Homo sapiens: one gene and its partners. The protein of the gene in region 1 purifies or fractionates together with the protein of each later gene. This does not show direct contact. Each region holds a gene or a part of one and is shown on either strand. Other genes may lie near its edges.

Region 1 (4,149 bases):
AAATTGGTCAATGAGAGACTCATCAGCATGGCCTACGGGCAGATTGGTGAGGCACCGGGGACTCCATCTCCTTACCACCCAGTGCCGGGCCTAGAGCAGTGCCTGGCCCACCGTGGGTGCTTGGGACCCTGGCATTGACTCAGGGGAGCAGACGTGGGCAGGACCAACCAGTGAGCTATCTGTGGGGGGGGTCTGCACCCCATCCTTCTCCACCTCCTCCTCTCTGCTGTTGATGTGTGCGGATCCCCAGAGGAGTGGAGCAGCCACCCTTGGGGGCTGTCCCAGCAAGCAGAGACTTCATGGCAGTGGTTCCAGGCCCAGGGAGGTCATTCCTGCGTAGGGAGCTCAAGCTGGGGATCCCCCAAGAATTCATGATGTTTAGGTGGCCTAGGTCAGGTGAGAGAGGGGCTCCAGGTTATCCCTCTGGGAGAGCCCTCTCTCCAAAGCCCCTGTCCCAGGTGGCCCACCCATCTCAGGGCCTCACCACCAAGTGAGACCTCAGGTCACCCTCTGGGAACCAATGTCCAGATAACAGGGCCAGGAGGGCATACTCCCCTCTCCAAGGAGGCCTCCGGGCCCTCTGAGGTGCCCTGGGTTGGCTGCTGGCCCCAATCTGAGCCTCTCCTCGGCTTCCTCTCTCCTCCTTCCAGGAATGATCCAGGCTCTCGGTGGCTTCTTCTCTTACTTTGTGATCCTGGCAGAAAATGGCTTCTTGCCCGGCAACCTGGTGGGCATCCGGCTGAACTGGGATGACCGCACCGTCAATGACCTGGAAGACAGTTACGGGCAGCAGTGGGTGAGTAGGGCAGGGTGCTGTGTCTCTGCCCACCGTAAGATCCCCGGGGTGAGCTGTTCCAGCCATGCATGGCCACTTCCTACGATGGCCCCCTCAGTCTCCCATGGCAGCATCAAGGCCTTTGCTGGGCACCTGGGGCTTCCTGGATGCCCTTGGCCCAGCCCATCTGGAGCCTTGTGTCCCACTGCTGGAGCTCTCTGCCCTGCCAGGCCTTCTTCCCCACCTCTGTCTGTCCCTTCAAAGCCCAGTTGCTGTCTGTCCTCCTTGGGAGGCCCACAGGGTCCTTATCCTCCTCCCTGGCCCCTGGTGGATGGTGAGATCACCATTAACCTTTCTTCTTCCTTGTACGTCTCCTGACTCCTCCCTCGGGACTATGAGCCCGCAGAAGGAAGACACACCTGAGGCCCTGAGGACCCCATGCAGGATGGGGCGGGGCAAAGAGCACCGGAACGTCGGGGTGGCGGCTAGGGCTGCAGTGCCACTAACTGACGTCCCGTGCCCTGGTCACCGCTCCTGCAGACATACGAGCAGAGGAAGGTGGTGGAGTTCACCTGCCACACGGCCTTCTTTGTGAGCATCGTTGTCGTCCAGTGGGCCGATCTGATCATCTGCAAGACCCGGAGGAACTCGGTCTTCCAGCAGGGCATGAAGTGAGGGCCGGGGGCACATGGTGACTGGACAGCCATCTGTCCTGTCCGAGTGTCTGTCTGTCTGTGTACTTCCTCTTGTGTCCTTGCTTTGGTTTTTTGTTGTTTTGTTGAGGCAGGGTCTCACTCTGTCACCCAGACTGGAGTTCAGTGGTGTAATCATAGCTCACTGCAGCCTCGACCTCCTGGGCTCAAGTGACCCACCCACCTCAGCCTCCTGAGTAGCTGAGACTACAGGTGTGCACCATCATATATGGCTAATTTTTATTTATTTATTTAGAGACAGAGTCTTGCTCTGTTGCCCAGGCTGGAGTGCAGTGGCACAATCTTGGCTCACTGCAACCTCCGCCTCCCGGGTTCAAGCGATTCTCATGCCTCAGCCTCCCAAGTAGCTGGGATTACAGGTACGCACCACCAGGCTCGGCTAATTTTTCGTATTTTTAGTAGAGTTTCACCATGTTGCCCAGGCTGGTCTCAAACTCCTGAGCTCAGGCAATCTTCCTGCCTCAGCCTCCCAGAGTGCTAGGATTACAGGTGTGAGCCACCATGCCCAGCCCATTTTGGGTTTTGCCACTGCACTGATTTTCTCTCAAGGGGTCCTGTGTGTCCTAGATTCTCTCTCAGCCTCTGTGTGTGTGGTGGAGGTGCCCCTGGCCTTTTCTTTTTATACCAGTGCCTCTCTGTGTCTGTCCCTGTCTCTGTGTCTGTTTCTGTCCCTGTCTCTGTGTCTGTCCCTGTGTCTGTCTCTCTGTCTGTCCCTGTCTGTCTCTGTGTCTGTCCCTGTCTCTGTGTCTGTCCCTGTCTTTTGTCTCTTTCTGTGTCACCATCGCTCTGCCTCTATCTTTGTCTCTCTCTGTCGGGGCATGTCTCCCCATCTCTGTCTCTCCCTATGTCTCTGCCTCTCTGTCTCTGTGTCTGTGCTGCTGTCTCTGGGTGTCTGCACTGTGCCTCCCCCTGTCTCTGCGGGGTGGCAGGTGCAGGGTGGGTGCTCTCTGGGCCCAGCCCTGCCCTTCTGTGCCTCCAGGAACAAGATCCTGATCTTCGGGCTGTTTGAGGAGACGGCCCTGGCTGCCTTCCTGTCCTACTGCCCCGGCATGGACGTGGCCCTGCGCATGTACCCTCTCAAGTGAGTGCCCCGCTGCCCCCAGCCCTGCCCACACCAGCGCCTGCCATGGAGCCTTCCCTTAGACTCAGCCTGAACCTCAGGCCCCACCTCCCCTGGTGTCCCCACTGCAGTCCCCATTCTGATGCCCCCGAGCCTCCCCCATAGGCTGCTCCCACCACGGATTACTCCGAAGACCCCAGGCCCCAGCCCCGCCCAGGGCACCCTCCACCTGTGAGCACGAAGGATCCTGGGAGACTGCCCCTCTGCGTCCCCTCCAGTCCCCTGAAACTCTGCCTCTCGTTAGGGCCCCGCACTCAAGCCCTCCTGCTCTCCCCTCTGCAGGCCCAGCTGGTGGTTCTGTGCCTTCCCCTACAGTTTCCTCATCTTCGTCTACGACGAAATCCGCAAACTCATCCTGCGCAGGAACCCAGGGGGTGAGGGAGCTCGGCAAGGCAGCCGAGGGGGGCGGGGGGCAGCAGGGTCTCAGGCAGCTGGTCCCAGGCTCCCCTCGCCCTGCTGGATGGCTCTGCCACCTGGTTCCCACTCTTCTCTCTCTTCCCATCTCTCCGGGCACCCACTCTGTCTTCTCACGGGTCTCTGTCTGTGTGGTTTCCTTGTCTCTCTCCCTCTCTGTCCCTCTCTCTGCTGGGCGGCTCGCCTTGCCTGTCTCTCTCCATCTCTTACTCTGTCTCTTTCTTTCCTTCTTTGTCTCTCCAGGTTGGGTGGAGAAGGAAACCTACTACTGACCTCAGCCCCACCACATCGCCCATCTCTTCCCCGTCCCCCAGGCCCAGGACCGCCCCTGTCAGTCCCCCCAATTTTGTATTCTGGGGGGAGGAGCCCTCTCTTCCTGTGGCCCCACCTTGGCCCCCACCCCCTCCACTATCTCCTGCCGCCCCCACTCTGGCTGGCTTCTCTCCCCTGCCCCAAACCTCTCTCCTCTCTCTTTTCTGTGTCAGTTTCTCTCCCTCTCCTCACCCCTCTATCCATTCCTCCCGCCCCAGCCACCTCCCTGGGCTCTTTTTTACTCCCCTTCAGCCCCCCGGCTGATGCCATCTCTGGTTCTGGACAATTATCAAATATATCAGTGGGGAGAGAGAAGCGGTGTGTGTGTTGTGCCTGCTTTCCAGACGGGGACTGCGGCTGGGACAGCATCCCCTCTGTTGGGGCGCGCTGCCAGGCGACTCTCGAAACTGCAGGAACTTAGCCTGGCACTGGCTTGGAAGTCACGGAATCTCAGAGCCATCTAATCACGGAGTTTTCAACTCCACGAAAGTCAGAGCAGCTTGAATTCACCAGGCGATGGCATTGTGGAATCAGAACAGGGGAGAGGGAGGGAAGCAGACGTGGGATGGTGACTGGGAGCCTCTCCTATAGGAGTAGGACCCAGGGGACACAATGACGATGATGATGGTGATGACAGTGATTCACTGAGTGCCTGCTATGTGCTCTGCCCACTTCTAAGTGTGCATTAAATGTGCACAGAGAGAAGAAGTGATTTGCACACAGCTAAGAAGAGACAAATCTGGGATTTGAACCAAGGCTGTCCAAAGTTCTAGGTCACTACGCTATTCTCTCTTTTTATTGAGATAAACTTTCAT
Region 2 (3,500 bases), on another chromosome or scaffold:
GCTCAGGGGCCAGGAGGCCTCTCATCTTTAAAGTAGGAATGACAACCGGCAGGCCCTGGGTACTGAGCTGTGCTTTACCGAAGAGCGGCAGGTCCTGACGCCGTCTCCTCTCAGGAGTGGGGTGGCGGCGTGCTCAGCTGAGGAGCCAGGTGGCAGTCAGGCTTGGCTTGGCCTGCCCAGAAGCAGGGCTGTGGCAGGACCTTGGACACGTGGCTTCCACTGTTTGAGACTTGGTGAAATGGGGGTCATGATGCCCTTCACTTGAGCATCTGGGAATTAAGTGGGTGAACAATGTGACCTCTGGCACCTGGGTTCTCAGGTGAATTCCTCATGGCATCACAGCAGTGTTGAAATAGGAGCAGATACGTTACCTCCGCTTGCCAGATAAGAAACTGGGACGCAGATGGATGGACTACCTGAGAGTTGTAGATAACATTTTCCTGTTCATGGGGTGGAGGACCTGGCCCTGAGAGGACAGGATCCCTCCTGCTCCTGCCAGACCAGAGACCCAGGACAGGGCGTGGAGCAGACAAGGTGCCTGGGCGGGGGAACCCTGAGGGATCCACAGAGGGTGCGGTCCTTGGAGGGAGGACATGCAGTGCCACGTGCCATGGACCAGCCAGTGGACCCCATGGCCAGCAAGGCTGCTCCTGGGGCCAGTGGGGTGGACAGTCCCGCCCACGCAGGTGACTGAGGTGCCAGTGTGGGAATGAAAATGCGGCCTGTGCTCCTGGGCCCATGCGTCTCACGCTGCCCTTCCTCTCCAGGGAAGCCTGTGTACCTGCTACTTTTTCCCGAACAATTCATGGTAAAAACACAAATGGTATATGGACAAAATACTGAATGTGGAAGAAACCTACTTGACAGTGTTGGTGAAAATAGGGCCAGGATTTCACACCCGTGAATGCTTTTTACTGAAAAGTATTTTGTGTTTTTCTCCCAGTTACAGAATGTCTGAAGGGGACAGTGTGGGAGAATCCGTCCATGGGAAACCTTCGGTGGTGTACAGATTTTTCACAAGACTTGGACAGGTTGGTGGGTTTTTTAGTAGATGAGTATAAATATTTGAAAAAGAAACGGGACTCCCAGCATTTTCGGGAAGGATCTGTTTGCTGGTGTTCCTGATGGAGAAGTTACTTCGCCTCAGGCTCAAACTTCCTGAAGACAGCGTTCTCTTCACTGTGAAGGGCCAGCTGTGGAGAGATCGGGCTCTGGGGCCACACGTGGTCTATCAAACATATGCGTTTTCTGTTTCTGTTTTCCTTTTACCAAGCTTTAAAAATATAAAACCCAGTCTCAGCTCCCAGGCAGGACAGATGCGGCCGTGGCTGCCGTTCTGCTCTTGCTGTCCCTCTCCCAGCCACCCACGTCCCCGGTGCTGGTAGCCCCACCTGCCCCGTGTCAGCTCGGCGGTTCTGTCCTTGAGGGTGAGAGGCTCTTGTGTGGGCTGCGTGTGCATTGCTTGGTGAGTGAGGGACCTAGAGCTGCCTTTGAACGCTGGAGTCCGAACCTCTGTCAGGAAAAGCTTGGGTCACCGGCAGTTCCAGGTGCTGAGGATCCGGCTCAAATAAAAATTCATCACCTTAATTAAATCACATATGAAAAGCGATTGGCGATTAATGAAGTTGGGTGACAGGCATATGTAAGCTTCTATAATCTTTTTACTTTTGTGAATTTGGAAATTTCTCACAATTTGAAAATTAAATTTCTAAATTAAAATAAAAAACCATACATATGTATATTTGTAAAAATAAATACATAAAACTAAGGGCTCCTTCGGTCATGTCCACAGCCGCCTGGACGCACACACATGTGGGTGTGGCTGCTGGGGCTCAGGCTGTGGCCAGTGGGCCTGGGAGCGGGGCAAGGCTGGCTGCTGGCTGCTGCAGATGGGGGAGCTGACTTGAGATGTGACGATAAGGGCTGTGCTGTAGGGTGGGGACTTTGAGATGCACAGTCCTCTCTTTGGGGTGAGGCTGGGTCTTCCCCATAGTGATCCCTTGGGGCCAGCACAATGTCACAGTCTCCTAGGAGATTGTTTTGTAATAGTCTTGCTTAAGAGATGAACCTGCTTCAGGAATTATTGAAAATAAACTTTGGATTAATTGTAGTCACTTCTTTGTGCTGATACATAGATGATCTCTTGCTATTTTAACTCACTCTTTTAGCTGTTTTAAAAATTGAAAGCCAACCCTAGCAGAAGGTACATTTTGTGGCAGGGTCAGTACAGAAGTTACAGGACCTGCTTCATGCTTTTGGACTCTTGTCTTTCTAGATTTATCAGTCCTGGCTAGACAAGTCCACACCCTACACGGCTGTGCGATGGGTCGTGACACTGGGCCTGAGCTTTGTCTACATGATTCGAGTTTACCTGCTGCAGGTAGGTGTGGGCTGAAGTGACGAGACTTGGCTCTGTCCACGTTACCTGGGCGTGATGTTTGTGGGGATGTTGTTGATCCAGTCTGTCTTGCAGGAAGTGGTCTCTAGTAATCAATTTTCAGCTAAACGCCAAATGTCAGAAAGATCTCAGTGACTGTCTTTAACGAACAGGGTTGTTTATGATTCACCCGGAGTCGCCTCGCCAGGCTTCTCAGTATACCCAGGCCGTCCTGAGCCCAGCCTGGCCCTGCCCTGGGCACGTCCAGGCCTGGACAGTGGAGCCGCTGGTGTCCCTCCGACCCTGCTGCATGATGCTCAGGACAAGGTTGCGCTCTGTGGCTGCCTCATTCCTTGGGTGAAGAGTCCATGCCTTGGGTGTCATGAATGACTCGGCGTCCAAAGGGTTTATGTAGCTTTTCCTGAGCTCTCCCTTGTGTGAGGCCAAAGCACAGTGCAGGTTGAGACGCCGAGTCAAGTAAGAGAGACAGTGACCGAAGGGGGTCTTGAGGGTTTCCTTCGTGTGTTTTCGGGCACCCCTAGGTCAGGTGATGTCGTCTCAGACTTCACCTGGGTGCTCCTTTACTTGCTGGTAAACACGGGGTTTCTAGGAGCAAACCTGTAAGATGGGAATTCTTCGTCGGTCTTTAGAGGAGGTTACATAATCTTATGTGCAGAGCAGGGCATGTTGAAAGCCTTGTCTGGGCTATTTTCTCCTCTGGGGACTGTAGAAGATACTTCCTTGTTTAAAGCACACACCTTAATTTATTTATTTATTTTTGTTTTTAAATTGGAACTGGGTCCATTCTCTGATGGAAAGAATGACCTAGAAATCTTGAATCAGGGACTTCAGGCAGGAGCAGGGGGCGGGAAGAGTGCAGCACCCACAGGTCAGTTTTATTGCGTTCGAAACCAAGCTCGTGCCTCATTTGGCGTCTCTTCAGGTGTGGCCCTGCAGCCGAGGATGGACACACAGACATCAGTTAGCCCTCACATCCGGCGTTCAGCCGAGGATGGACACACAGACATCAGTTAGCCCTCACATCCGGCGTTCAGCCAGGGATGGACACACAGACATCAGTTAGCCCTCACATCTGGCGTTCAGCCGTCTGACTGGAAAAGCT
Region 3 (3,500 bases), on another chromosome or scaffold:
TTTCTTGGCAGTGAGCAACCTTCAGCCGGCAAGCGTTAGAAGTGAGAAGTTGGACTGCTTATTTTGTGAGATGTGGTTCTTCCTAGAGTGGGGAGATTCGTGTGAAGATGGCTTCACTACTAATGAGTCCTGTGCCTGCGCTTAGGTGGGTCAAGTGCACGGGGGACTCATGGGTGTGATTCAGAGAGCCATGGTGAAGGCCTGCCCACACGTCTGGTTTGAGCGCTCGGAAGTGAAGGATCGCCACCTGGTGGCTAAGAGGTAATGGACAGAACACTGCTGTTCTGCTTGGCCAGTTAGAATGCTGAAAAGGTTTCAGGGTAGTTATCCCTCCACAGTGCAGTTACGTGCCTTCTATCATAAGCCTATACTGCTTTCATAATAATTTTTTCCTAAAACATGAAATTTTAAAAGTGGCCGGGTGTGGTGGCTCATGCCTGTAATCCCAGCAGTTTGGGAGGCCGAGGTGGGCGGATCACTTGAGGTCAGGAGTTTGAGACTAGCCTGACCAACATGGTGAAAATACAAAATACTAAAAATGCAAAAATTATTGACGGGCATCTGTAATCCCAGCTACTAGGGAGACTGAGGCAGGAGAATAGTTTGAACCAGGGTGACAGAGGTTGCAGTGAGCTGAGATCGCGCCATTGCATTCCAGCCTGGGCGATAGAATGAGACTCTGTCTTAAAAAAAAAAGTATAGAAACCCTAGTATTATTTACCAAGTTAATAATGTTTCTTAACCTTTTTTTAATTCATTGTACCCATCATAATAAACAAAATACGAATTTTTACTGCTATTTGAAACCTCAAAATGAATTCATTTATCACAAATAAAAAGAAACCTAAGGCAGTGGAACAAAGTACTGCCCTGTTTTCAAACTTTAAGAAGGTGAATCTGCTGTAAGTAATGCAAAGAGATTTGCAGCAGACAGAGACATCAAGACAGTTGAGACCAAGCCACACATGGTGGCTCAGGCCTGTAATCCCAGTGCTTTGAGAGCCCGGGAGTTCGAGACCAGCCTGGGCAACATAGGAAGACCCCCATCTCTACAAAAAATTTAAAAATTAGCTGAGCGTGGTGGTACGCTTCTGTAGTCCCAGCTACTTGGGAGGCTGACGTGGGAGGATCGCTTGAGCCAGGGAGGGTGAGACTTCAGTGAGCTATGATTGCACCACCGCATTCCAGCCTGGGCAACACAGGGAGACCCTGTCTCAAAAAATAACACATAAGAAAAGACAGTTGAGATTATCTTCCATAGAGACAGATGAACTCTCCCCTAACTCCCTTTGCTACATCTCAGGGACAGAGCATCGAGCCAGCAGGGCTGGGCCCAGCCTCACAACTGTTACATAGTCTAGTGACACAGGTTTATTGAGGGGGCCATGCCCAGGCCTTGTGGCAGGTGTCTCTTTCAGGTGGCCCCCAGGTTGAGTGGCATCATTGGTGCTCCGATGTTCGCACAGAATTGAACAGTTCTGTGAATTAAATGGTAACCTGATTTTTCTCTATCCATATACATTTTTTCTTGATGAGCATTAGATTATGGGTTTAAAAGGATACAGTTATGCTTGTTAACTTTTTATAATCGAAACTAGTGTCACAAATAAATAGGTTATTTATAAACATATTTTGACGATGTGTATAAGGTTGTCTGACCCTTTATTTTATTTTCTTCTTTGAAAGACTGACTGAACATGTGCAAGATAAAAGCAAGCTGCCTATCCTCATCTTCCCAGAAGGTAAGAAGGGGTTGGTTGCCACGAAGGGCTTCTGTGGGGAGTGCAGGAGTGTGATGCTGATGTTTCCTGGGAACCAAGGCCCTCAGCCCTTGTTGGGGTTATCTGTTTTCACTGAATAATGTTAGGTCCCCTTTAGGTTGGAAGTAGGACTAAAAACTCAGGTAAGTTCAGAATTTGAACTAAGAATGCCATAGTGTGAACTCCCCAAATGCAGGAATTTCTTCTGTAATGTTTCAGCTCCTCACAGAGCTCATGGTGTCCTCCTAAGGCCACTGCGCGTCTCTGCTTTATCTAGGCTGTGTGTATGAATCAGGGAAAGTGGTCCTGTAGAAAGAGAATCGGAGGCACCATCTTGCCTGTCTCTGTTAAGTGTTTGTTTTTAAGTTAGGGAGATGACAGATGTATCTTACTGGAGGAACCATTAGAAGAATTTTGACTATTATACTTAGTCTTTAAGAAACGCCTAATATCTGGGGTAAAGGGCCAACAGAAATAGCATTTTATTGTCTCCTGCATTTTAGGAACCTGCATCAATAATACATCGGTGATGATGTTCAAAAAGGGAAGTTTTGAAATTGGAGCCACAGTTTACCCTGTTGCTATCAAGGTATAAGACCTCCGATGGTACACACTGTCATTACTGGAGCTGCTGTGAGTGGGGTGCAGCAGGAGGAGGTAGAGGAAGGAGCTGGGGTCACCAGTCTGTGGTCGATGCCCTCAGCAGAGTGGCGTGGGGCTGGGTTGACGTGGGTCAAGTGCTGCCGGAGGAGGATGGTGAGTGCTCAGCACCCCTTAGAAGGGCCTGGGGAGTGTGGAATGGGGGACAGCCAGATTCCCGCCTGCATGCTGCTGCCGCCACCATTCGGGAAATGGCAAGCCCTTCACTTATTACCTTGCTTCATAAACCTAGCTGGAATGTAGGCCCCTCCACATGGAAAGCTGGCTGATTGCAGGGCACAGTGGTGTGGTTTTAAGCTGGATTTTTGCATTTTGGGGGAGCCATGAGGATTGGGGGGGGGGTCATTACTCCAGCCCAGTGGGAGAAACAGCTTCACTGCTTTTAGTTGTGTCATCTTTTAGACCTACAACAGCTCCTAACAATGAGATGGACCCTGGGAGTTTATCTAGTCTACGTCGACCCTTTAGGAACTGCTCCTCTAACCCTTCAGACACCCAGAGCTATAGGATGTGATTAGCTAGTCATCTGCACATTGTTCCTCCCCGCTCTTACCCTCTTCACATCCACCAGGCCTCACATCATGACACCTACAAAACACAGGCCATCCTCAGTGTGGTTAAAGTATTTAGGCTGCAGCCTGAGAGCTCGATAAAATGGTGAGCAGATATGAGTCAGGCTCACACTTAGAATTTCTTTTGTAGGGGACTGGGTTGTCTGCAGAGCATTCTGTAGAGTTGGTTCTGACTTTCTTTTCACCTTGCCAGTGCCACTGGAGAGGTGTTGCTCCTGGTGAGGCCGATGCTCACCAGCCACTCACTGTTTATCATTTAGGCAGAGGACCAGGCCAGGGATGGCAGATGAATATTGCCTGCAGGGGACTCTGATTGACAGGCTAGGACTCACCAGAGCCTGAGGATGCTGTGTCTGGAAACAGCAGGAAAGAGGAACATAGTCTGTTAGCAGAGTCTGCCTTGGGTGTGGGAGTGGGGACTGGCATCTGCATCCTGCATTCTGGCAAAACGAGGACAGGTGCTTTGCAGTGTGACCGTGATGCTGGATGGAAGCCCTTACTGCTGCCT
Region 4 (3,500 bases), on another chromosome or scaffold:
TTGGAAAAATTATTATTAGTTTTATTTTATAAAATGATATGTGAGAATATACAGTAACACTGAAGGCCTGCCAGTTGTAGGTTATGTTTAAAGTACTCAAAGAGAAAAGTAAAGTTCTGTGTGTTTATGCTTTCAAATTGGTGTGTTTTTAGAAATATCTGTAATTGCATTATATTGTAATTCAAAATTTCCTCATTTAAATATAACTTGAATTTTGTTTTATGTAAAATTGTAATGCCTCATGATTTTTACAAATAATTCCTTTCCTCATTGCTCCTAGGTGAAGTTGTGGTATGATAAAGTGGGACACCAGCTGATTGTAAATGTTCTGCAAGCAACAGATCTACCTGCTAGAGTAGATGGACGTCCTCGAAATCCCTATGTAAAAATGTATTTTCTTCCAGATAGAAGGTAGTGAATAATTTTAGAAAAAAAAAATCTTAAAATCTGTACTAATAGAAAAGGTAGAATTTTCTCTTTTGGGATGTTTTTAAAAAATATAATAGATAATTCTGAGGAGATAAAAGTACATTATCTCTGAAAAAAGAAGTCCCTCAAGTGTTGGAAATTGTGTTGGAAATATTTGAAAATAATCTGTCAATTAAAAAAATCTATTACCTTGTTTATAGGTATATTAGTCTTTGATAGCGACACATCATTTAGAATGTACCTTTGTATGTGTCCCTATAATTACAATACTGCTTATATTGTAACTGAAGTTAGAATATTATTAAACTCTATTATCTTTTTATAGACTTTCCATGAGTTATTAGTTAAAATAATATAAATATCAATGGCAGTTTTACATGTAACTACAGTAGATGGCAGCATGTACTTGCTTTTTCATTTACAAAACATACTTATTTTTCAGTGATAAAAGTAAAAGGAGGACCAAAACAGTAAAGAAAATACTAGAACCAAAATGGAATCAAACTTTTGTCTATTCACATGTACATCGTAGAGATTTTAGAGAACGAATGTTAGAAATAACTGTGTGGGACCAACCAAGAGTGCAAGAAGAAGAAAGTGAATTTCTTGGAGAGGTGATGTATATTTTAAAAACTCAAGTCAAATAGTTAATAAAGTTTTGTGATATTTATTATGATTACTATTACATTATGTTTTGATAAAGGTACTTGATTTAATTTGAGAATTACCCTCTCAGATCCTCATAGAATTGGAGACAGCGCTTTTAGATGATGAACCGCATTGGTATAAACTTCAGACACATGATGAGTCTTCACTACCTCTGCCTCAGCCATCACCTTTCATGCCAAGGCGACATATTCATGGAGAAAGCTCTAGCAAAAAGCTACAAAGTAGGTTAAGGTCCTTTTAGTTGCCACAAAGTAATTATGCTGTAATGATCTAATTAGTGATTAATAATTCAAGATGTTTTTTTTAAATGTTTTATTAGAGATCAAAATACTGGAAAATTGTTCATCTTTATGAAGCAACTTGGCAAAACTGTTTCTACATTTTCACAATGAAAATAATGTAGATAGCATAGCAGAGTAATTGCAGAGCTGCAAGCCAAAAACCTCTGAATTAAAATTCTTGCACAGGGCCAATTGAGCTGTTGGTTATTGACTGATGGAATAATTTCTGTCATCACTGGTGAGTTGCCACCTGTGAAGTCTTAATAACTTTATAGTTCAAAGATTTTTTCTCCCCCCACCGAGAGAGAGTCTCACTCTGTTGCCCAGGCTGGAGTGCATTGGCGTGATCTCGGCTCACTGCAACCTGCACCTCCCGGGTTTAAGCAATTCTCCTGCCTCAGCCACTGGAGTAGCTAGGATTACAGAAGTGCGCCACCATGCCTGGCTAATTTATTTTTGTATATTTAGTAGAGATGGGGTTTCACCATTTTGGCCAGCCTGATCTTGAACTCCTGACCTTGTGATCCATCCGGCTCGGCCTCCCAAAGTGCTGGGATTACAGGTGTGAGCCACCATGCCCAGCCAGTTCATAGATATTTTAATAGTTATTCATAAGAAATGTTGTTTAAAATATTAGAAGGTATGTTTATTGCTATTCATCTAGTGATTGGGAAAAGCTATTTTTTTCTGTACTTATTGAGTAATTTTTGTGTCATAACTACATTTCTAAGTTAACAGCTGAAAGAAGCCTCATTTTGGTAATCTGGAACTAAATTATTTTTCTCACATAATTAAATATTTCATGTTGATGCTTCCCTGATCAGTAATTTCCTCAAAGTTAATGTTTAATGAAGTATAATGACTAATTTGGGGAGCTAAACATAAATATTTTATAAAGGGCCCTGATGTTTTTTCATTAATATAGGCTGAATAGAGCTCCAGCCAAGAAATGTCTCTGAACCTTTCCACTCAGCCCTATTCTCTCTGAACTGCAGAGGAAAGCACTTAATTGTGTAGAAAACAATGTACTGTATATACTGTGCTGAAGGCTTTTAGTATAATATTTTAATTAAAGAATTAATCTGAAAATCTTATTCTGTGAAGTCCCCTTGTTTCTATATGTCTTTGGTGTAATGAGGAAAAAAATACTGATAAAATGTTATCCTTAGAGAACAAACATTTCTTTTAAAATTAGCTCAGTGTTTACTGTATTAGTCTTCATAAGTTTTCAGTAATAATGCAATTCACTTTTTAAAAAAAGTTTGACAGTGCTCTTTACGTTTCATAAACCAACCAGACACAGAAGTATCTCTTTGCCTTACTGTTGTGCAGGATCTCAGCGAATCAGTGATAGTGACATCTCAGATTATGAGGTTGATGATGGTATTGGCGTAGTTCCTCCAGGTGCGTGGGTGAGGAGCATGACCCTGCTTCACTGTGCTGCTTTGCTTGTTTTCTCTGTCAGCTTCCGGACCTCTTTAGGATACTAAACTGAAGATTTATAGCACAGAGAAATCAGTATTATATTATTCCATGGTGACTTACATTTCAAATTATTAAGAAAGTTTTAAATGGACTAGTCTCTACTAATTAGCATTCCCATAGTGAGGTTCTTCCGTAGAAACATGTCTAACTAGTGAAACAAATCATTATTTCACAATGCTCTGAGCGTAAGTGAAAATACGAATTTTATTTTGAAAAGATGGGGTTATTAAATAAAAATTCCATTTTTCTGTGTTTTATATTTGCATTTCTATGATTTTCCTTCCACCATTTCTGAAAATAATGTAGCCCTCCATGGAATATACTGAGAAAGGTGCATGGCGGGGTTTAAAATTGCATGTGGCATGGCTGTAACTTTTAAAGCTTTTGTGATGTGTTCCCACTGATTATACCTAGAATGTGTGTATATGTTTTAATACAATAATATGTTTAAGAAAGATTAAGTATTAATTTGAAGTGAACATCTCTTTGTCATTGTGTAAGTTAGTAAAACTTTTGTGATGTTGTAGGGTTTAAATGTTTCTCATCTGACTTCTGTCAGAAAAGTGTAAAATCAAGTGGTAAAGACTTACTTTCTTGGCACTAATTCTATACTTTTTAAAAATTTACTAATGAGAG
Region 5 (3,500 bases), on another chromosome or scaffold:
GATATAATTCAGTTGTGATAAAACCATCCAGCATCCAGGAATAGGGTACTTTTAACTACATTTTAGGAATTTTGGCTGGGTTCAGTGGCTGGCTCACGTCTGTAGTCCCAGCACTTTGGGAGGCTGAGGTGGGTGGATCACTTGAGGTCAGGAGTTTGAGACCAGCCTGGCCAACGTGGCAAAACCCTGTCTCTACTAAAAATACAAAGATTAGCCAGGTATGGTCACGTGCACCTGTAATTCCAGCTACCCTGGAGGGTGAGGCACAGGAATTGCTTGAACTCGGGAGGCAGAGGTTGCAGTGAGCAGAGATCCTTCCACTGCACTCCAGCCTGGGTGGTGGAGTTAGACTCTGTCTCAAAAAAACAAACAAACAAACAAACAAAAAACTAGTTGGGCATGGTGGTACACACCTGTAGTCATAGCTACTTGGGAGGCTGAGGCAGGAGGATCGCTAGAGTCCAGGAGTCTGAGGCTGCAGTGAGCTATGACTGTACCACCACACTCCAGCCTGGGTGACAGAGAGCCTCTTAAAAATTTTTTTTAAATTAAGAAAAGGAATTTTTTTATTCTACTTTGAAGAAGTATAATAACTCAAGAATACACCAAAGATGAGAGTGGTCTCATCTTAGTGGACTACCTATATTTTGGGTCTTTTGCTTTACGGTTTATAATTATAACTTATTTATTTATTTATTTACTATAGGTAAACTAACATTATGGATTTTTCCAAGCTACCCAAAATACTCGATGAAGATAAAGAAAGCACATTTGGTTATGTGCATGGGGTCTCAGGACCTGGTAAGTAATACATCATAATCTCAAAATAAGGATATCTAACTTTGATTAATGTCTTTTCAAAATATTTTACATAGAAATATACAACTTTCTGTTTACCTGCATAAATTCTGTTTGTCCTTAGGCGATCTCATAGTGACTATAAGACCGAAGTAGAATCTCTGTCATAAGGGCTCATCTAGCATTGATTATCTAAATTTTATAATTATTGAGGTACTACTTTGTGATATCCTGTTTATAATTATGTAAATGTTCAACCAGTGTTCAGTTTTATATGTCTTAATTTTTTGTTAAATTTGAGGTAAATAAACTATGAAGTTTATAGCTTTTAATATGTAATACCTTGCATATAGCAGGCATTCAGTAAATGTTAATTTGCTTTGAACTTTAATAATTCAAACGCTCAGAGCATTTCTCAGCAATATTAGCTTTTGCCCTTTGCATTTATGAAACTTTTTGAATGGTTATTTTAAGTGTCACATTATTAACTACCTGTGGGAAAGAAGTCTTAGGACCCAAACTTTATGTCCATTCTGCCAAAACATGGAGTGCTGCTTTTTAAATAATAAATCTTACGCCAGTATTTGTTTTGTTATTGAATACTCCCACTACACAATGTGATTCACAGTCACAGTTTCTCTAAGTAAAACCTGGTCAGTGATGTATTATCCTTAAAACCTCATGCTATATAGTCTTTTTCTTGTTCTAGTTAGAGTAGTGGTGATGACAGTTTTTTGATGTTTACGCAAATGAAGACTGTCAGTCACTGTGCCTCTTTTTTCTCCCCCAAGAACTTGGTGTTTGAGCTTGATTTCATTGGCAGGTCATTAAAAGGTTATCAGTATCTTTTGCCATGCAGAGAAATAATTGTCCTCTCAATGATCATAAGGGTCTTCAGGATGGACAGACTAAACCCAAGAACCTTTAGAGAAAAGGCAAAAGAACATCAGAGAGTTTAGGAAAAAATATTCTGTGAAACTGTGTAGTAAACTGCTCCTGGAAACAATTTTTATTTTATTTTAAAAATTTTTTTAAATTTTACTTTAAGTTCTGGGATACATGTGCAGAAAGTGTAGGTGTGTTACATAGGTATACATGTGCCATGGTGGCTTGCTGCACCTATCAACCTGTTACCTAGGTTTTAAGCCCCACGTGCGTTAGGTATTTGTCCTAATGCTCTCCCTCCCCTTGCCTCCTGCAATTTTTAATTCTTAAGTACTTAATAAGGTAATGGAACAATGGCATCCTTTTTTGGCTTATGAAATATGATTTTTAAATTTCATTATCTCTGGTATTTCAGTGCATCTTAATTCTTAAGTAGTCGGCATAGAGGTAAATATTTATAGAATGAATAAGTCTTCATTGTTTTTACACAGGTTAATTAACTCATAAAGCTTTAATAGTTTCCACTGAAGTATTACCTATAACATAGTTCTAATCAGTTGTATCAGAAGGCTAAATATTAAAAATTGGTTTATTCTTACACGTGTCTAAAAATATGGCAACCTTCCTTCCCTGCTAGAAAAGTAATTTTTGCTTACTAGACCACATGGTCCAAAATAGTAAGTTCAGTAAATGGAATTCCATTGACAATTTCTTACCCAATGGTGGTGACTGATTATAAATATCCTTACGGCCTATGAAAAAAATTTTGTAGATGTGTGTGTGAGTTTTTCTAGTAGAGCTATTATTAGTTTTTGAAAAGGGTCCATGTCCCAGAAGAGTTTTAAGAACTACTGCTATAAGTTATTAGAAAGTAAACATGTTGCTTTAGGTCTGTCTCTCAAAGGAAATGGTAACAGCACAGCGAAGTGATAATTGTGTGGCATTCTACCATACTACTAGCCAAACCATTTATTCCAATTTCTACTTTTAAAAGTTTTTTTTATTGTTCCAAAGCCTTCACTCCATGTATCATAGCAACTCTCAGAACATACCTGAATCCTACCAGGTAAGTTTGCCATGCAGAACTTGAAATGTTTGAAAAGTTTTCATGTATATTATGTAAATAAATAATCTTTGGCTTACCTCTTTATATTATACACTAAAATATATATCTATGTGAAACTACCAGTATGTTCCATAGTAGGTTTTTATCCTTCTTATGAATATATGAGAGAGGCACAATACTGGGTTTATTGGGTGTTTTAATTATTTGTGACTATTCACAGAGCACTAGAGTCTTAAGTCATCAAAATAGTCTTTTGTTCTCTTCAGTGGTTACAGCCTGTGACATGGCGGGTGCAGCCATGTATGAGCTGGTGAGAGTGGGCCACAGCGAATTGGTTGGAGAGATTATTCGATTGGAGGGTGACATGGCTACTATTCAGGTGTATGAAGAAACTTGTATCCTTTTTGGCTCAATTTCCTGCCACTTTCTATATTTCAAAATTTAAGGATTTAGGCCAGGCATAGTGCCTCACACAAAGTAATCCCAGCACTTTGGGAGGCAGGCAGGTGGATCACCTGAGGTCAGGAATTTGAGACCAGCCTGGCCAACATGGTGAAACTCCATCTCTAATAAAAATACAAAAATCAGCTGGGTATAGTGGCAGGCGCCTGTAATCCCAGCCGCTTGGGAGGCTGAGGCAGGGGAATCGCTTGCACCCTGGAGGTGGGAGGTTGCAGTGAGCAGAGATCGCACCACTGCACTCCAGCCTGGGCAACAGAGTGAGACTCCATCTCAGAAAAGAAAAAAAAAA
Region 6 (3,500 bases), on another chromosome or scaffold:
TCCCTCCTCGCTCTCCCTAAGAGAGATGCTGGTTTAAGGCATTTTGGGGTTGATTATGATTGATCTAACACCTTTAGATAAAGCCAGGCAGCTTTCCTTCGCAATAAAACTTAACTAACTTGTAGGGGTTGCTAGTTTATATCTTTTTTTTTTTTTTTTTTTGAGACAGAGTTTCTCTCTTGTCGCCCAGGCTGGAGTGCAATGGCGCGATCTCGGCTCACTGCAACCTCCACCTCCCAGGTTCAAGCGATTCTTCTGCCTCAGCCTCCCAAGTAGCTGGGATTACAGACACTCTCCACCACACCCGGCTAATTTTTATATTTTCGGTAGAGACGGGGTTTCACCATGTTGACCAGGCTGGTCTCGAACTCCTGACCTCAGGTGATCCACCTGCCTCGGCCTCCCAAAGTGCTGGGATTACAGATGTGAGCCACCATGCCTGGCCCACTAGTTTATATCTTATGGTGTCACCTAGGGAGAAATTACAACAGAAATTTTAAATAGCTTTTCATTGGCTTCAAATATATTTTTAAAACATGCTATGATATAAATAGTTTATAAGAAAAACAAGCTAGTTTAATAAAAATGCAATTCAAAGTAGACTAACATTAAACAACCTAACATTAAGTCTTTTACCATTCTGGAACTTAAATATTAAAAGCATCTGTAATTTATTTTGAATTTTATACCTGGTCCTCTTATTTGTAAAGAAGATCATTAATAGTTGTAGATAAAAAAAATTGCTTCTCCTAAAGGATTACTAGAATGAAGCTGTATATTTAAAGTTGTTCAATACAGTTATAATTGTAGTTGGAATTAGGATTAATCTAATCATCCATCAATAAGAGAATGGTGGGCCGGGCACAGTGCCTCACGCTTATAATCCCAGCACTTTGGAAGGCTGGGGTGGGTAGATCACCTGTGCTCAAGAGTTGGAGACCAGCCTGGGCAACACGGCGAAACCCCATCTCTACTAAAAAATAAAAAAATTAGCTGGGTGTGGTTGTGTATGCCTGTAGCCACAGCCACTTGGGAGGCTGAGGCAGAAGGATCACTTGAGTCCAGGAGGTGGAGGTTGCAGTGAGCCAAGATTGTGCCACTGCACTCCAGCCTGGGTGTTAGAGCAAGACGCTGTCTCAAAAAAAAAAAAAAAAAAAAAAAAAAAAGAGAATGGTGAAATAAATGACAGTACATACATTCTATGAAACACTATGCAGCCACTGGATAAAGTGAGATAGACTTATATGTATTAACAGTGGAAAGATGTCTATAATGTTTGTTAAATTAGAAAAAGAGCAAATTGTAAAACAATATGAATAGCCCTCTTGTGTAAATGAACCCATTTACACAACCAAAACAAACCTTATGTGTATATATAGTATATGTTTATAAATGCATAGAAAAATATCTGGAAAGAAATCCTCCCAATTATTAACAGGGTTTAACTCTTGGGAGGAGAGTACGAGTGGGGACTTTTGCTTTTTACTCTAGACATCTACATTGTTTTAATTTTTACTAAGGAACATGCATAAACTTTGTAATTTAAAACATTTTTGAGATAATCGAAATCAGTGATAACTTGTGTTGTCTTGACTTAGATATGCTTGATTTAACAAGCTCTCATTTTATTACTAACATCTTATTGTAAAACTTTATAATTTATAACAAACAGGATTTTGTAAAAACAAGAAGCCCCAGACGTCATGATGGACCGTCGTGGGCTTGGTCCCTGGCGCCCTCTTGTGACCAGTGAGAGGATGTCAGCCTATTGCTATCCCCAGGATCCTGGGGTGCTGAGTGCAACTGGCCCAGTGGGAAAAGGGTGGTGATGGCATGGGGTAGCGTGGGGAATCAGATGGAAGCCAGTGCTACCCAAAGTGGACTCTTAAGGACTTCTTGAATGTCCCCAGACTATTAATATAGGGTGGTATTGAATTAATCATGCCTTAAATGCAGCACAGTTTTATTTTTATTTATTTTTCTCTTTTTTTTAAATTTTACTTTAAGTTCTAGGGTACATGTGCACAAAGTGCAGGTTTGTTACATATGTATACATGTGCCATGTTGGTGTGCTGCACCCATTAACTCGTCATTTACAATAGGTATTTCTGTTAATGCCATCCCGCCTCCCTACCCCTACCCCCCGACAGGCCCTGGTGTGTGATGTTCCCCGCCCTGTGTCCAAGTGTTCTCATTGTTCAGTTCCCACCTGTGAATGAGAACATGCGGCGTTTGGTTTTCTGTCCTTGTGATAGTTTGCTCAGAATGATGGTTTCCAGCTTCATCCATGTTCCTACAAAGGACATGAACTCATCCTTTTTTATGACTGCATAGTATTCTATGGTGTATATGTGCCACATTTTCTTAATCCAGTCTATCATTGATGGACATTTGGGTTCATTCCAAGTCTTTGCTATTGTGAATAGTGCCGCAATAAACATACGATGCAGCACAATTTTAATGTCAGGAGTCACTGCAGCTTGCTAACCCAGACATACTCTCAAGCTACATTCTTTCTTGGACCATTTGGAAATTGCTTTCAAGTACAGCTGTGTTTTCATGGACACTGGGTAGGTGTGGGCAGGGTAGGGAAAGAAATTAGTGGGGGAGAGGAAGGAACATAGAAATGACCTGATCGTATAAGGAGCCAGTGTGCCTTCTCATAGCCATAAAAAATGGGAGATAAACAAAAATGTGACAGGTTAGAAGAGGGGAGAGTGTGTACACATAGCAGGGACCAGTGCAAATGAGGAGGGTCAAAGAACTTTCTACAAGTCACTGAATTCTATTTGCAAAGTGACTTTACATACATTCTTCCTTCTTCTGTGTTCTATAGGTGTAAAATGGTGATAACTTTGCTTTAAAAAATCAACAGGTAGAAAATGGAATCACCGCAGAGTCCTTACAATATCCCCTTAAGGAGGGATTTAATAATATGACCTGCGTGAATATTTTGTTAGCCATTAAGGAGCCTCCCTCAAAGATCACTGCGAAACCTTACCTAAAGAAGGGGTGGGTTTTGAAGGTCTGGGTGGTGGTGGCGGTGGCGGACAAGGTCCTGGTGCTGCAGCTTTCACAGTGAGGTTAAGGCTGAAGGTTCCATTGAGCACATACGTGTGATTCACAGTATGATTGGTGGAAACAAACAGGCCAGTATTATCCCCGAAGCTCCACTTGTAGTTAATGGTAGAATAATTGAGGAAGTGGCTAGGATCATGAATCAGGACATCAAACATAATGGGGAGATCTTTGAGGAAGGTTTCGTCGGATGAATTTCGATCGTTCTTCTGGAACATAGTCACAAACACAGGAATCTGATCTAAAAGATACATCCCCCAAAGAAATAAAGAATGCATGATTGCTTGATTGTAAGTGGAGGGCTTCGACGATGCTTTTAGGTTGAAATATTAAAATGAGGGATAATTTAGCATTATTTTCCTTTTCACATGCAAGTTTTCTGGGGTTTCCCTAAGCTATTCTGGAAAACAGATGAACTACAA
Region 7 (3,500 bases), on another chromosome or scaffold:
AGGCAAGCTAAAAATCAGTACTATTTTAATTTATACAACAATTTTAGCCCAAAACACTGAAGGCATGGGCCACTATTTTATAATCTCCTTTAAAGTGGAACGCAGGACTGGCAAATTATAGCCTATATCTTCAAATACTGCCTGCCTGCTGTTTTTCTGTAGCCCATGGGGTAAGAATGATTTTTATATTTTTTAATGGTTGGGAAAAATATCAAAGGAATGATATTTCTCCTTTTTGCCCAGTACCCTCACTGAATTGTTGGGGAGGGGCTGCTGCTATTCAGGAAGCAGCAGCACTAGCAGAATTCAGGTTATACAGTCATTCTTCAAAAGATTTAAATTTTGTCTCTATCACTTACTTTGATACCTTGGGTAAGTTACTTCAGTTCTCTGTGTCTCAGTTTTTTCATCAGCAAAATAGGGAAAATAATAATCTGTAACAATAATAGCACAATGCCTGGAACAGAGTTAAAAATTAGTAGATTTCAGCTACTGTTATTTTTATTTATTTTTTTGTTGAGAAACAGTCTTGCCCTGTCACCCAGGCAGGAATGCAATGGTGTGATCTTGGCTCACTGCAGCCTCTGCCTCCCGGGTTCAAGTGATTCTCCTGCCTCAGCTTCCCAAGTAGCTGGGATTACAGGCACCTGCCACTATGCCTGGCTAATTTTTTGTATTTTTAATAGAGACGGGGTTTCACCATGTTGGCCCGGTTGGTCTCGAACTCCTGACCTCTTGATCAACTACTATTATTAAAGTCCCAGTTTTCTCTCCTCATCATTCTTGTTTTGGAATATTACTTCTTATATTACTGTTACTGCTTATCCCTGCCTCACATGTCAGTAACAATATTGTTGGTACTTTTTTCACAGCAAGGCATTCTGGTAAAGATTGATTCCTGCAACATAAAAACCCTTAGGATTCAGTAGCTGTACCGATTTCATTTAAAAATGTTATTTATTCATTACATAATAGGTGTTAATAGAATTTGAGTTTTACCAAAGTAATACTAAATTTTAATATGCAAATATATAGTCCTGCCCTATGTCAGAGGAACATACTTTAAAAAAATTGTAGCATCATTGTATACAGTAAAATGCATAGATCATGAGTGTACAGTTAGATAATTTTAAGTCTGTATACCTGGGCTCTAACTCCCAATCAAGCTGAACATTGTTATCAACTCAGAAAGTTATCTTGTGTCCTTTTACAATTTGTTCTCCTTAGAGGTAACCACTATTCTAATTTTTCTCCCCATAGATTAATTCAAAGCAATCATATTCACTTATTAGCTTCTTATGGTCTTTTATTACCATGGTGACCACTAGACCCTCTTCTGCCTTTGTGCAATTTAGAAAAAGATCCCCTCTCTGGTGGTTTGGAGAATAGAGCATCAGTTGGTTTCTAGACCTACTGATTCCCTTGGCCTGGCATCCTTGTACTGGAAACAACCTGCCCAACCATACATGGCGATCTTAACTCCATGTTTCTCACTTTTTGCCCCAGTAGGGCGTGGTGCGGCGGGCAGCAGAGTCTTGCTCTGTCACCCAGGCTCGAGTGCAGTGGCATGATCTCGGCTCACTGCAACTTCCGCCTCCCAGGTTCAAGTGATTCTCCTGCCTCAGTCTCCCGAGTAGCTGGGATTACAGGTGCCCACCACCACTCCCAGCTAATTTTTGTATTTTTAGTAAAGACGGGGTTTCACCATGTTGACCAGGCTGGTCTGGAACTCCTGACCTCAAGTGGTCCACCCACCTCGGCCTCTCAAAGTGCTGGGATTACAGGCTGAGCCATAGCACCTGGCCCTCCATGTTTCTCTTTTAACTCCCTATTTCTCTAAATCAGTGGTTGTTAAACATTTTGCTCTGAGAACTCCTTTATAGTCTTAAAAATTGTTCAGGATCCCAAAGAGCTTTTGCTTTATGTAGGTTATATATATTTCCAAATAACCAAAAAGATTTAAGAAGACTAACAGTAACATTGTTTTACATTCGGCAGTGCCCTTTATTGAATAGCTTAATAGAAGATAGCCGGATTTTCCTATCAAATTCTTCATTCAGTCTGTTGTGATATGGTGCTTAGCTTCTGGAAAATTGCACTGTACAATTTTTATTGTATATAAACATAGCGAGAGAATGAAAGTGAAAATGACAGTTTTATTATTTAAACTAACACAGTCTTAGTTTTATTATGAAAAAAGTTTGACCTTGTGGACCCCCTGAACGGGTGTGTTCCTGGACCACATTTGCAGAACATCTATTCTAAATATTTGCTTATACTGCTGTTTCATGGTTTGTTTTCATTTGTTTTATTTTTTGCAGTTTTAGATAATACCTATTGATAATAGCTACATGGAAGGTGAATATTTAGCTTTTTCTGAATATTTACACACTGCACACATGATCTCTTCTCCTGTTCTAGCAATTTCTGGTTAAATTGATATTTAGTGTTTTTTATTATAATTAACATAAACATTAGTTACATTTGAGTATTGTAGTATACTTTTATTTTACTTCCATTCTTGTATAACAACTTTTTATTTTCCCTGAATTTGATCATGCTTCTTGGGGCAGGAGAGAGGGTTCCTTAATTTTCTACATACTTACTGCTCATTCATTCCTCAGACTCTGACAGCAGTATAATTGTCTTTCTGTGTCTTCAAACTCACCAGGTAACTTACCAAGTTTCTTTCTTTCTTTCTTTCTTTTTTTTTTGATGATTTCTTGCCCATCATTCATTAGTTTTCTATTCCAGACTGGTTGCACTCATACAAATGTCCTGAGAGTCATAATCATCTTGGAAGAATTGCCTTTGTCTTTATCACATGCTAGATCTACAGTTTCATAAATCTGAAGAAAAAGATAAATTTTTAAAAAATCTTACGTGTCTCAGAATCGTTATTCCATCCTCATATTTGATAATTTATCTGGGTGTAAAATTCTAGGTTAGCATTCATTTTTCTCTCAGCATTTTGATGGCATTGCTCCATTATCTTCTAATGTGATGCCATTCTGATTCCTTGTTTGTACATGACTTTTTTTCCCCCTTTGGTTGTCTACAGGCTGGTGATTTTCTCCTTATATCTTTTTTTTCTTTTTTCTTTTATGCTTTCAGCTTTCAACATTTTTATTGACATGACTTGTCTGCTGTCATTCATTTTCATTCTTTGTGGCTTAAGGTTTATTTGTTTTATCCCTTTACTGTCGCTTTATTGAGCTTTCAGGAGGAAGTAAACAAACATTTCACTGGAAATCAATATTAGAACTTCAACTTAGCTATCTTGATAGCTTTTTAAAGATTTGTTAGAATATTTCCTTTTACATTAAAAATTGACTTAATGATAATTAATAATGGATAATAATGGAAACCATCTGAATTACCATTAGCATTAATTTAAGATCAGACAGGATGGTCTAGAAAGATTGATGAGGCATCCTCTGATCGTCCTCTTCAAAGTTCCAAGATTGTCTCCTTCATGAGGAATTTTAGAGGCAACTCAT

The links.
Region 2: the proteins of ATP1A3 (region 1) and RER1 purify together in Homo sapiens (co-immunoprecipitation; 2 studies listed by BioGRID and IntAct, with this or other methods). This does not show direct contact.
Region 3: the proteins of ATP1A3 (region 1) and GPAT4 purify together in Homo sapiens (affinity purification with mass spectrometry; one large-scale study listed by BioGRID and IntAct). This does not show direct contact.
Region 4: the proteins of ATP1A3 (region 1) and RIMS1 purify together in Homo sapiens (co-immunoprecipitation; one large-scale study listed by IntAct). This does not show direct contact.
Region 5: the proteins of ATP1A3 (region 1) and ATP6V1A fractionate together in Homo sapiens (co-fractionation; one large-scale study listed by BioGRID). This does not show direct contact.
Region 6: the proteins of ATP1A3 (region 1) and GPNMB purify together in Homo sapiens (affinity purification with western blotting, with the first as the bait; one study listed by BioGRID). This does not show direct contact.
Region 7: the proteins of ATP1A3 (region 1) and ITM2B purify together in Homo sapiens (co-immunoprecipitation; one large-scale study listed by IntAct). This does not show direct contact.

The regions. Positions count from the first base shown.
Region 1 is NC_000019.10:41,966,082-41,970,230, reverse strand, and holds the end of ATP1A3 (sodium/potassium-transporting ATPase subunit alpha-3), read left to right. Parts: coding exon 1-46; intron 47-650; coding exon 651-796; intron 797-1,315; coding exon 1,316-1,446; intron 1,447-2,467; coding exon 2,468-2,569; intron 2,570-2,890; coding exon 2,891-2,982; intron 2,983-3,265; coding exon 3,266-3,294; 3' UTR 3,295-3,649; downstream 3,650-4,149. UniProt on the Homo sapiens protein: This is the catalytic component of the active enzyme, which catalyzes the hydrolysis of ATP coupled with the exchange of sodium and potassium ions across the plasma membrane.
Region 2 is NC_000001.11:2,394,841-2,398,340, forward strand, and holds part of RER1 (protein RER1), read left to right. Parts: intron 1-943; 5' UTR 944-950; coding exon 951-1,031; intron 1,032-2,275; coding exon 2,276-2,380; intron 2,381-3,500. UniProt on the Homo sapiens protein: Involved in the retrieval of endoplasmic reticulum membrane proteins from the early Golgi compartment.
Region 3 is NC_000008.11:41,612,700-41,616,199, forward strand, and holds part of GPAT4 (glycerol-3-phosphate acyltransferase 4 isoform 1 precursor), read left to right. Parts: intron 1-145; coding exon 146-261; intron 262-1,686; coding exon 1,687-1,742; intron 1,743-2,263; coding exon 2,264-2,349; intron 2,350-3,500. UniProt on the Homo sapiens protein: Converts glycerol-3-phosphate to 1-acyl-sn-glycerol-3-phosphate (lysophosphatidic acid or LPA) by incorporating an acyl moiety at the sn-1 position of the glycerol backbone. Active against both saturated and unsaturated long-chain fatty acyl-CoAs.
Region 4 is NC_000006.12:72,250,050-72,253,549, forward strand, and holds part of RIMS1 (regulating synaptic membrane exocytosis protein 1), read left to right. Parts: intron 1-280; coding exon 281-411; intron 412-871; coding exon 872-1,043; intron 1,044-1,165; coding exon 1,166-1,319; intron 1,320-2,711; coding exon 2,712-2,783; intron 2,784-3,500. UniProt on the Homo sapiens protein: Rab effector involved in exocytosis. May act as scaffold protein that regulates neurotransmitter release at the active zone.
Region 5 is NC_000003.12:113,778,035-113,781,534, forward strand, and holds part of ATP6V1A (V-type proton ATPase catalytic subunit A), read left to right. Parts: intron 1-706; 5' UTR 707-719; coding exon 720-801; intron 802-3,015; coding exon 3,016-3,144; intron 3,145-3,500. UniProt on the Homo sapiens protein: Catalytic subunit of the V1 complex of vacuolar(H+)-ATPase (V-ATPase), a multisubunit enzyme composed of a peripheral complex (V1) that hydrolyzes ATP and a membrane integral complex (V0) that translocates protons.
Region 6 is NC_000007.14:23,260,275-23,263,774, reverse strand, and holds part of GPNMB (transmembrane glycoprotein NMB isoform b precursor), read right to left. Parts: intron 3,320-3,500; coding exon 3,002-3,319; intron 1-3,001. UniProt on the Homo sapiens protein: Could be a melanogenic enzyme.
Region 7 is NC_000013.11:48,239,706-48,243,205, forward strand, and holds part of ITM2B (integral membrane protein 2B), read left to right. Parts: intron 1-3,500. UniProt on the Homo sapiens protein: Plays a regulatory role in the processing of the amyloid-beta A4 precursor protein (APP) and acts as an inhibitor of the amyloid-beta peptide aggregation and fibrils deposition. Plays a role in the induction of neurite outgrowth.